Linked DNA regions of Homo sapiens. The protein of the gene in region 2 interacts with the protein of the main gene of each other region in a pairwise test. Each region holds a gene or a part of one and is shown on either strand. Other genes may lie near its edges.

What was found.
Region 1: the proteins of ESS2 (region 2) and LYST interact in a two-hybrid assay, tested with the Homo sapiens proteins (one study listed by BioGRID).
Region 3: the proteins of ESS2 (region 2) and DGCR6 interact in binary tests that used the Homo sapiens proteins (3 or more experiments, as listed by UniProt).

Annotation. Positions count from the first base shown.
Region 1 is NC_000001.11:235,664,188-235,667,935, reverse strand, and holds part of LYST (lysosomal-trafficking regulator), read left to right. Parts: intron 1-3,314; coding exon 3,315-3,471; intron 3,472-3,748. UniProt on the Homo sapiens protein: Adapter protein that regulates and/or fission of intracellular vesicles such as lysosomes. Might regulate trafficking of effectors involved in exocytosis.
Region 2 is NC_000022.11:19,130,942-19,134,689, reverse strand, and holds part of ESS2 (splicing factor ESS-2 homolog), read left to right. Parts: intron 1-214; coding exon 215-494; 3' UTR 495-2,213; coding exon of another isoform or gene 2,214-3,290; 3' UTR 3,291-3,748. Other genes in the region: TSSK2 (testis-specific serine/threonine-protein kinase 2), read right to left, coding at 2,214-3,290. UniProt on the Homo sapiens protein: May be involved in pre-mRNA splicing.
Region 3 is NC_000022.11:18,904,661-18,908,408, forward strand, and holds the start of DGCR6 (protein DGCR6), read left to right. Parts: upstream 1-1,659; 5' UTR 1,660-1,714; coding exon 1,715-1,824; intron 1,825-1,904; coding exon 1,905-2,065; intron 2,066-3,748. UniProt on the Homo sapiens protein: May play a role in neural crest cell migration into the third and fourth pharyngeal pouches.

The DNA.
Region 1 (3,748 bases), on a different chromosome or scaffold from region 2:
AATCCCTGCACTTTGGGAGGCCGAGGTGGGTAGATCACGAGATCAGGAGATCAAAACCATCCTGGCTAACACAGTGAAACCCCATCTCTACTAAAAATTCAAAAATTTAGCCAGACATGGTGGCACTCGCCTGTAGTCCCAGCTACCCAGGAGGCTGAGGCAGGAGAATCGCTTGAAGGAAGCGGAGGTTGCAGTGAGCTGAGATTGTACCGCTGCACTCCAGTCTGGGCAACAGAGCGAGACTCCATCTCAAAAGAAAAAAAAAAAAGAATACAGGAGGATGTGCAGAGGTTATATGCAAATACTACACCATTTTATATCAAGGACTTGAGCATCCATGGATTTTGATATCCTCAGGGGTCCTGGAACCAATCCCTCTCAGATACCTAGGGACAACTATATTATGTGCCTGTGCTGTATGTGTAACATCTTCTCAAAAGTTACATTGTCAAGCTCATTCCTCCTGATCATAATTTCTCAGTTCTTATGATGGGATATGGTTTTTATAGTGATAAGATGTGAAATGTATTAAACTGTGAAAATGTAATCAGTGATTTCTGGGGGGGTTGTATGTGTGTTTACCATTCTATCACTGGATCAAAATATATGCCTTTGAACTAAGGTGAGACATCCATAGCCTGGTCCTCTGTTGCCAATGGCAAGATAGAGTTAGTAAAATATTCTAAGATTCACAGTGGGGTGGTTCTTTAATTTATTTTGATTTTCATGACTGTGTATACGAAGGATAGAGATGCTTTTTAGGAATGCCTAGGTTTCTGACTTTTAGTTGATGTGTTAAATTATACATTCGAGCAATCTGGTATTGGGTAACTGTCAAATTTTGATACTTACAGAAGTAGGCAGATGAGTAGTTATTTGGTTTTGTGGTAGCCCAAGTTACTGAGTGAGCTGCTAGGATAATTCTTTGGCTACTAAGTTCCAGGCCATACTTGAGAGTCCAGGCCCACATTTAGATTTTTTATTTTGAAGGATTAAGCCATGCAGTAGTGGTAGCTATGGGTTACAGCGAGAAACCCCTACCTCAATATCTTTTATGGCTATGTTTCCAGTGACTTCAATGAGCCTTCTAGCCTTACTAGTACTTATCTAATTATTTTATCTTTTAAAAAAATATTTTAGCCAACATTTAATTCAAAAGAAAGGTTGAAATGTAGCCTACTCATGGAAAATATTGTCTATAATTCTATTTCTTTAGCATACTGAGTCTCCTGCATCTTGATGCTATATTTAGATATAATCAATGTTCTACAATGGGAAAACTTAGTAGAACATTGGGCATGTGTGTGTGTGTGTGTGTGTGTGTGTGTATGTGTGTGTGTGTGTGCATGTGTGTCTCAATGTATATTTAAATAAAATTTGCCATTCCAGCCATTTTTTAAGTATTCAGTTCAGTGGCATTAATTATATTAACAGTGTTGTGCAGCCATCACCACTATTTCCCCATTCCTCCTCCCTCAGCTTCCAGCCCCTGGTAACCTCTATTTTACTTTCTATCTCTCTGAATTTGCCCATTGTAGATATTTTATGTAAGTGGAATCATACAGTACCTGTCTGTTTGTGTCTGGCTTATTTCACTTAGCATGATGTTTTCAGGGTTCATCCATGTTTTCGCATGCTTCATTCCTTTTTACGGCTAAAGAAAATTGTGTGTGTGTGTGTGTGTGTGTGTGTGTGTGTGTGTGTGTGTGTATGTACATACTGCATTTTGTTTATGCATCTGTTGATAGACATTTAGGTTGTTTCCTCTTCTTGGCTATTGTGAATAATGCTGCAACACACTGGGCATTTTGATCTGTGGTATTTGGCGGTCTTTGGCATATTTTTAAATAAAGAAGCATTGTTTATATGTTTCTTTGCTATAAAATATGAAATATTTTCATTGTCTTAATAAAAGACAGAAGCAAAGCCTCTACTTATATGTAATGAAAAGATAAAATTAAATGTAGTGAGACTATGTCATCAAACTTTATCGTGCCTCCTAACCGCTTTATCAGTATGAGAGTATTTCCCCAGAGAAGGCTGGACATATCATCATCAGCCCCCAAACCATCCTGTTTATAAAGCATGGCAGGCAATTATGCTTCCCCCAACCCCAGAAAACTAAAAGAAAAACTTTTGGTTACTCTGTAATCTTTGAAAAGAAAAAATTAATAAGGTATTGCTTTATAAGATTTAATCTTAGATGTTCTGAAGAATACTTTTTCTTCTTTTTTTAAGAATTAAGTTTTAACTCAGGTAATTTTTACTACACCTTTTTTTTTCTTCAAAAGTCACATAAGTCACTTTTTTTTTTTTTTTTTTTGAGATAGAGTCTCTGCTCTGTCGCCCAGGCTGGAGTGCAGTGGCACTATCTCGGCTCACTGCAACCTCCACCTCCTGGGTTCAAGTGATTCTTCTGCCTCAGCCTCCCTAGTAGCTGGAACTACAGGCGCCCGCCACCACCCCTGGCTAATTTTTTTGTATTTTTAGTAGAGATGGGGTTTCACCATGTTAACTAGGCTGGTCTCGAACTCCTGACTTCAGGTGATCCACCCGCCTCGGCCTCCAAAAGTGCTGGGATTACAGGCATGAGGCACCACGCCTGGCCAAGTCACTTCTTATAGATGGTTTCACAGAATATTTCCTTCACTTTTTGGAGACTGTTTAGCTTTCCAAGTATTTTCAATCATAACTCATATTTGGTGGTTCATATGCTGAAATATTACAATTACACAAAGATGATTATTTTACCTTGTTACTGTACACATAGATTGCTTCTTCTTATTTTTATTTTTTCGCTGGTTATTGTCTCTTGATTAATACATAAAGATCTATGCAACTTGGCCTGGTGCAGTGGCTCACGCCTGTAATCCCAGCACTTTGGGAGGCCGAGGTGGGCTGATCACTTGAGGTCAGGAGTTCAAGACTAGCCTAGCCAACATGGCAAAAACCCATTTCTACTAAAAATATAAAAATTAGCCGGATGTGGTGGCGTGCACCTGTTGTCCCAGCAACTTAGAAGGCTGAGGCAGAAGAATCTCTTGAATTCAGGAGGCAGTTACAGTGAGCCAAGATCACACCACTGCACTCCAGCCTGGGCGACAGAGTTAGACTCTGTCTCAAAAGAAAATGAAAAAGAAAAATCTGTGCAACTTGTGTAGTAATTTCATTTATACAGTCTTCAGTCATGGGTTGTCTACAAACTTCATCAATAAACAAATGAGCTTGCCCTTCAGGGTTGCCCTTCTGGGGCCAAATGTGGGCTCTGAGACAGCCACATTCTGGTAACCCGCCGGATGATTTGGGTGTTTTAGCTGGCGGAGGCAGTGACCTCAGACTCTGGACGGTGAACGGGGATCTCGTTGGACATGTCCACTGCAGGGAGATCATCTGTTCCGTGGCTTTCTCCAACCAGCCTGAGGGAGTATCTATCAATGTAATCGCTGGGGGATTAGAAAATGGAATTGTAAGGTAAGAGGAATTTGGATTCTCTTTTTTTGATTTCATTCATAAGGACACAGGAGTTTCAGAAATTAATTTTTAATATCTAGGCATATTAATATTCAGTATTTAGAGATTTAAACTCACCTTGGGGTGTAGGTTCTTTAGTTATTCCTGTTTTATTTCTAAATAATAAAGATAGCTTTAGCACAGTTTTGAAGTTTTATGTTAACTATAAAAGATTAACAGTATGGAAGTATACAAAGTTAAAAGTTCTCTTATTCCCACATCTACCCCCTGCAAACTC
Region 2 (3,748 bases):
GGCGGTGCTGCTGTTTGACCTCAGGTTTGACCTGAGCGCTGCTGTTTGACCTCAGGGATCCCCCGCATTTGCTGCCATGCTGGCAGTACCATCCTCCTCAGCTCAGAGTGACTGTGTCTCTGCCCAGGCTCTTCCTGGGAGCCAAGGGAGGCCCTGCTGCCGGCAGCTCTCAGCCCACCTAACCCTGCCTCTCTCACCCATTCCTCCACCCCAGCCTCACCCCCAAAGGCCTGAGCCCAGCCATGTCGCCAGCCCTACAGCGCCTTGTGAGCAGGACGGCCAGCAAGTACACAGACCGGGCCCTGCGGGCCAGCTACACACCATCCCCAGCACGCTCCACCCACCTCAAGACCCCGGCCAGTGGGCTGCAGACCCCCACAAGCACACCGGCGCCTGGCTCTGCCACACGCACCCCTCTCACACAGGACCCGGCCTCCATCACGGACAACCTGCTGCAGCTCCCTGCCCGGCGCAAAGCTTCGGACTTCTTTTAGAGCCAGGCCTGGGCTGGGCTCATAGACGCTTCACAGAGCCTGCAGGGCAGCTGTACACCCAGCAGAGGACTCCAGCCTTCTCGGGGCCCAGGCCTGGGCCAGAAGCTGTTGACCATACCAGGAGTCACTGGAGAAAGGGGCTGTGCTGGGGCCAGACTGGCACAAGGCACTCGTGCCCACACCACACCCCAGGGCCTTGCCAAGCTGTTTGCTGTTTAATTGGCCCCTTGAACTGTCATTAAAGAACACCTAGGTACAGTCTGGGGGGTTGCCTCTCCATCTTGCTCCCCACACGAGCCCTAGCCTTGCCCTGGGGCCTGCATCACGTCTCAGGACTGCGGGGCTTGAAGCGAGGGGCCCCCCAGGTGAGGAAGCTGCAGGTGGGGCGGCTGTGGGAGCACCGGGTGACTGGCGTTGCTTTCTGCGGCACTCGGAACCTGTGTTCTGAGTTGAGCTCACATCCTGCAGTGCTTTCTGCTTCTCTGGGGGGATATGAAGGAGAAACGGAGCCCTTGGAAGTTGTACCCTTAGGTTCCCCTGCGGTTCTGGGCCCAGGTCTGCAGCCTCCACTCTGGGCTTGCCGGCTGTGAGGTGCGCTGGTTATAGGACTGTGTGGGGGCTGCATATCAGGTGATCTCAGCTATCACCTTCTCCCAGCACCTGGCTTCCAGCTCATGGGGTGGGACTATCCCACTCACCCCTCTGCTATAGGCACTGCCCATCTTATGCTGCTGGCCCTGGCCTCACCTGGTCACTTCCACCAACAGGAGCTCCCAGATAACAGTGGGTTGCTGGACAGATCAGGCTGGGACTCTTAAGGGGTGGGGGACGTGGGGCCTTCAGTGCTTTATCCCCTAGGAAAGGGTGCACGTTATCCCAAGGGAGCCCCCAGGAAGTGGGGAGGGAGGGGGGAGGAGCATGTCTAGGTGCTGACCACCTGGAGCACTTGGCCAGCAAGTGGGCCGCATGCTTTGGGAGCAATGGGTGACCCAGCAGGAAGCACAAAAGACCGGCCAGTGTGCCATCATCAAGGGCTGCTGAGCAGCTTGAAGAGCCACTGGGTGGGGAGGGCACACGGGGAGGTCTCAGCTGGGGCTGCCCCTGGAGGACAGGGCAGGGAACTTGAGGGCTGAGGACAGAAATCTCACATGACTCCAGGAAATAGAGGAAGAGGAGGATGCTGAGCGAGGGATTGTGAGGGAGTGGGGGTAGGTCAGAGGGGGCTGAACTGCAGGAAGCCAGGGGGAGTCGTGGACCACTGGAGCTGGCCAGCCCCAGGGCATTGGGGACAAGGCCAGGTCAGAGGGAGACAGTGTGGGCCTGGTGGGTGGACCCTGGCAGAGGCCCTCTTGTCCCCCACAAGGCCAGGCCACACTGTGATTCTGCCTGTACCTGAGCATCTGTCCTGTGCTCCTAGGCCGGAGACCACTGTGTGTCAGGTGGGGCGGTTGGCTGAGTCCCAGAGAAAAACACTCCTCACTGGGCACTCTTGATGCTTGCACACACCCTGTGGTTTATTTGGTGGTCAGTAAGGAACGTCTTTGCTGCTAAGTGGAAGAAAGCTAATGGAACGTAATCAAAATAGTGGTTTAATTGACGAATTTTACTTGCACCTGTGCCTTCTTCAGATCCTACCTGCCTACTTAGTTTACGTGAAGGCCGACTGCACCATGCCCCCCAACCCCGACCCCCACCACACACAACGGGGCCATTGTCATGCTAGGTGCTTGCTTTCCCCACCTCAGCTCCGGAGATGTGATGGTCTTTGGCCCTGGAGGTCTCGGCCAGCCTGTCCTCCATCCTGTTCTCGTTCTCGGGCACCACCAGCAGCCGGTGCTGGGTTTTGGCTCCAAGCTTGTGGTCGGGCCGGTGGTCGGGCCTCAAGCCTGTCTTGGTGTCCAGTTTGCACTCAGCGCGGTACTTGCCCTCCCCCTCCCTCTTGAAGGAGGCAGAAGACGTGGCTTTGGGCTTGGGGGGCTGCAGCCACGAGTGGCTGAGGATCTCATCGATGTGGAGCCGCTGGCTGACGTCGGGCTGCAGCATGCGGTAGATGAGGTCCTTGCACTCGCAGGTCAGGTTCTTGGAGCGCGGGAAGTCCACACGGTGCTCCTTCTGGATACGCAGCATCTTCCTGATGTCGGAGTCGTCATAGGGCATGGAGCCGCAGACCATGATGTACAGGATCACGCCCAGGCTCCAGATGTCATACACCTTGGGCTGGTAGGGGATGCTCTGCAGCACCTCGGGGGCTGCATATGCTGCCGACCCGCAGAAGGTCTTGCTGAGGATGATGCGCCCATTGCTGTCCCGCAGGCAGCGCTTGGAGAAGCCAAAGTCAGACAGCTTGATGTTGAAGTCCTTGTCGAGGAGAAGGTTCTCGCACTTGAGGTCCCGGTGGACGATGTCCAGGTCGTGGCAGTACTTGACGGCGGAGGAGAGCTGTCGGAACATCTTGCGTGCCACGTCCTCATGCAGGGCTCCCTGGCACTTGATGAACTCGAGGAGGTCGCCCTGGACGCCAAGCTCCATGATGATGTAGATCCGTCCGTCAGAGGTCTCAAAGATCTCGTAAGTCTTGATGATGGAGCCGTGGTTGACAGTTGCCAGGATGTCCATCTCCCGAGGAAGGAATCTCTCCACAAAGTCAGTAGGTGTTTTCTTGCGGTCGATGATCTTGACAGCCACATTGAACTTGAGGCGCTCAGAGTAGGCAGATTTGACTTTTGCGTAGGAACCCTTGCCAAGATTGATGCCTACGATGTAACCCTTCTTCCTTAGGACTGTGGCATCGTCCATGGTGCCAGGAGCGACTGGCGCCGCTGCCGTCTACATCCCCCCGTCATGTGGGCCAGCAGGCATTGTCCTCATTTACACTACCGGAGGCGTCTGGCTGGGCTGCCCTGGGCTGGGCTTCGACTCAGGGGTGGAACACTCAGCATTGTCTCCGGGTGACTTCAGCCAATGAACTCATAAAGCCAAGGAGTGGGGGCGGGGACTGGGCTGAGGGAGAACAGGGTCTCTGGAACCGTGGAAGCCAGGCTGGTCTGGCAGGAGCACCCACTCCCCGCCCGCTGGAAGGAAGCCTGTCCCCAGGACAGGACTCTGGTGGCCCTGCTGCTGCTGCATTGGTTTCCCTGTCACAAGTCAAGCTGGAGGGGAGGCGGCCCACGTCCAGCCTGTTTGCATCACCTGGCTGTGGGGACTGACCCTGCATTGGTCTTTGTCCCACTAGGGTGGGTTTCCTGCAGCTTCTT
Region 3 (3,748 bases), 230 kb from region 2:
TAGGGACCAGCCCCACATGGTCGGTGGGTCTCTCCCCGTGTGCCGCAACGAGAGAGTGTAGAAATAAAGACACAAGACAAAGAGATAAAAGACAGCTGGGCCCGGGGGACCACTACCACCAAAGCGCGGAGACCGGTAGTGGCCCCGAATGTCTGGCTGCGCTGTTATTTATTGGATACAAAGCAAAAGGGGCAGGGTAAAGAGTGTGAGTCATCTCCAATGATAGGCAAGGTCACGTGGGTCACGTGTCCACTGGACAGGGGGCCCTTCCCTGCCTGGCAGCCGAGGCAGAGAGGGAGAGGAGACAGAGAGAAAGATAGCTTATGCCATTATTTCTGCATATCAGAGACTTTTAGTACTTTCACTAATTGACTACTGCTAGCTAGAAGGCAGAGCCAGGTGTACAGGATGACTAGGCATAATAAAGGCAGACTAGGAGCGGGACCACTGAAGCACAGCATCACAGGGAGATGGTTAGGCCTCCGGATAACTGCAGGCAAGCCTGACTCATGTCAGGCCCTCCACAAGAGGTGGAGGAGCGGAGTCTTCTCTAAACTCCCCCGGGGAAAAGGAGCCTCCCTTTCCCGGTCTGCTAAGTAGCAGGTGTTGTTCCTTGACACTTTTCACTACCGCTAGACCACGGCCCACCTGGCAACGGGCATCTTCCCAGACGCTGGCGTCACCGCTAGACCAAGGAGCCCTTCTGGTGGCCCTGTCTGGGCATAACAGAAGGCTCGCACTCTTGTCTTCTGGTCACCCCTCACTGTGTCCCCTTAGCTCCTATCTCTGTATGGCCTGGTTTTTCCTAGGTTATGATTATAGAGTGAGGATTATTATAATACTGGAATAAAGAGTAATTGCTACCAACTAATGATTATTGATATTCATATATAATCATATCTAAGATCTATATCTGGTATAACTATTCTTGTTTTATATTTTATTATACTGGAACAGCTCGTGTCCTCGGTCTCTTGCCTCAGCGCCTGGGTGGCTTGCCGCCCACACCAGCCACCAGAAGCTCCCCAGCCCCGGCCCAGCAGCTGGTCTGGGGAGCGGGGAGAGGGCAGTCTGGGCTCGCGGTTCCGGCTGGGGGCTGGGCACCCCGGGGCGACCACGGCAGGCCCAGATGGGGACTCCGGTTCCAACTCTCCTGGCCCAGAGGCTCTAGGGTGGTCTTGTCTGTCTCACTCCGGGGGCAGAGAGGACGCAGACAGACCCCAACACCACTGCTCGGCCGCGATGGTGCCTTAGACCCAGGTCCTGTGGGCTCTGGCCCGAGACCCCTCCCTCTGGGAAGGCCGGTGACCGGGACAGTCCACCTCGCAGGCGCGCCGGCGCGGAGCCCGGACCTCAGCCCGCAATGACTCAGCAAGGGCCGGTGGGATTCTACATGGTCCTGCGATATCCAGGCGACGGAGTCTCGCCTCTAAAGTGGCCCGGGGAGCAGGAAGGTATGAGCCTCAGCTGAGCGAAACCCTCCTTGCAGCCACCACGGAGGGACGGGGCGCGTCTCCTTCTGAATGACGCAAGGGGCGGGGCGCGTGGTGGGGCGGGGAAGGCGCGAGGCGCGCCGCGATCGGGGACTGTCCTAAGACGGGCGGGGCGCGCTGCGCTAGGGACTGTCATAAAAGGGGCGGGACGCGCCGCGGTCGGGATGACGTGAGCTGGGGGCGCTCGTCGCTGCAGCCGGCGGCTAGCGGGCGTCCGCGCCATGGAGCGCTACGCGGGCGCCTTGGAGGAGGTGGCGGACGGTGCCCGGCAGCAGGAGCGACACTACCAGCTGCTGTCGGCGTTACAGAGCCTGGTGAAGGAGTTGCCCAGGTACGCGGGCGGGGCGGGCGGCGGCCTGCCGAGGCCGCATCGTGTCCCGCCGGGGCTCACCGCGCTCCTCTACCCCGCAGCTCATTCCAGCAGCGCTTGTCCTACACCACGCTGAGCGACCTGGCCCTGGCGCTTCTCGACGGCACCGTGTTCGAAATCGTGCAGGGGCTACTGGAGATCCAGCACCTCACCGAAAAGAGCCTGTACAACCAGCGCCTGCGCCTACAGAACGAGCATCGAGGTGCGCGGGGGCAGCGGGAGGAGGTGCCGCCTCCTCGGGGTCGGCGCCTCCCGGCAGCTCTTGGTATCTGTGCAGCTCGGCTCCTTCCTTGGGAGTGTTCGGAAGAGGTCCCTAAGATTAACAAAATCAAGGGCGCAGAGACTGAGACAGCGCCTTTTTGGTGACCAATGTGTCCAACGAGTTTTGTTTTCAGTTGCGCAGCACCCACCTTCTTAGCAGAAACTCCCTGTTCGGGCTTCCCTGTGCCCCACCCCCTTCCAGGCCTGATGGCCCTAGGCCTCCGTGCTTGGTTGGCCGGCAGGCTGACTCTGGTGGTAGATCTGACTGCGTTGCCCTCCGGTAATTGGAGTTCTGTTGACAGGTGAGCAGCGCCCTTGGGTAGTTGGAGGTCTGTTGACAGCTGTGCGCGCCCTTCAGGGTCAGTTCCCTCTCAGGCCTGCAGGGCCTCATTCTAGTTGCACATCAAATTCCTAAGCACTGTCTCCTGTGGCGCCCTCCCAAACCAGAAGAGCTTCCCACTTGAGCCGCATGCTTCCTGGGCTTCGGAGCCCTTTCCTGCAAATTATATAGGGCAGGTCCCCCTGCACCATCAGATTTCCACCTTTGCTGTTTTATTTTTCCCAAACTTCTTATTTTAAAAGTTCAAACATTTGGAAAAACTGAAAAGACAGTGTAGTGCATACGCTTGTGCTCTCCACCGAAAGTTCAGTAGTTAACATTTTGCTCTAGTTCTTGACATCCCAAAATACATACATGTGACAGCATAGAATTCACCAAGAGTCTTCAGCATTCCTGGAGACCAGGATTTTCAACCCAGCCATGCTGACATTTGTGGCTGGGTAAGTCTTTATGGTGAGATGCTGTCTTGCGCATTGCAGGATGGCAGGGGTACCCTCCCTAGTCGTGAAAACCAAGAATGCCTCCAGACAACCTGGGTGGTGGGGTCAACCTTGGCCTTGGATTGGGAGCAAGTGCTCTAGAACAAGAGCGGTCTCCTACACAGCTGCAGAGGGTAGCCCCCTGAGAAATTAACTGTTCCAGGTGTCTCCTGACTTTCAGTGCATGGCCACATCATGGTACCTAACTTGTGGCAAATTGTTGCTTTATAAGTAAGGATCCAGTCCAAGTTCATGTACTACAATTGGTTACTTTGGTCTCTTTGCTTCTGGAACAGTCCCCAACATTTATTGTGGCATTGACTTTTTATAGAGTCTAATTCTATAATTAGAATGCCCTGCTCTGGATCTATCAGAGGAAATGCTTCCTCGTGCATTTAACCTGCTTCTCCACTCTCTGGGTTTACTGTACACTGGACTCCTGGTAGGAGCCTGATTAGAGGCAGGTTTAATGTGGCAAAAATTCCTCCTAGCGGGGCAAGGCCCCCTTCCCCAGAAGGCAGGCAGTGTCCATCTGCTCCAGGATTGGTGTGTTTCTATCAAGAATGGATGTTGGATTTTGGCAGTTTCCTTTTTGGCAGCTCTTGAGATGATCACGTGGTGAATCATTTTCTATTACTACAGTGAATTACAGTCACTTGAATTCCATCCTACTGGGTCGTGCTGTAGTATCCTTTTTATGTATGCTGGATTTGATTTGCTAAAATCTTGTTAAGAATTTTTTTGTCTATGTTCATGATAAACTGTGGTCTATAGTTTTCATGTAATACCTGGTTTGGGTATCAGG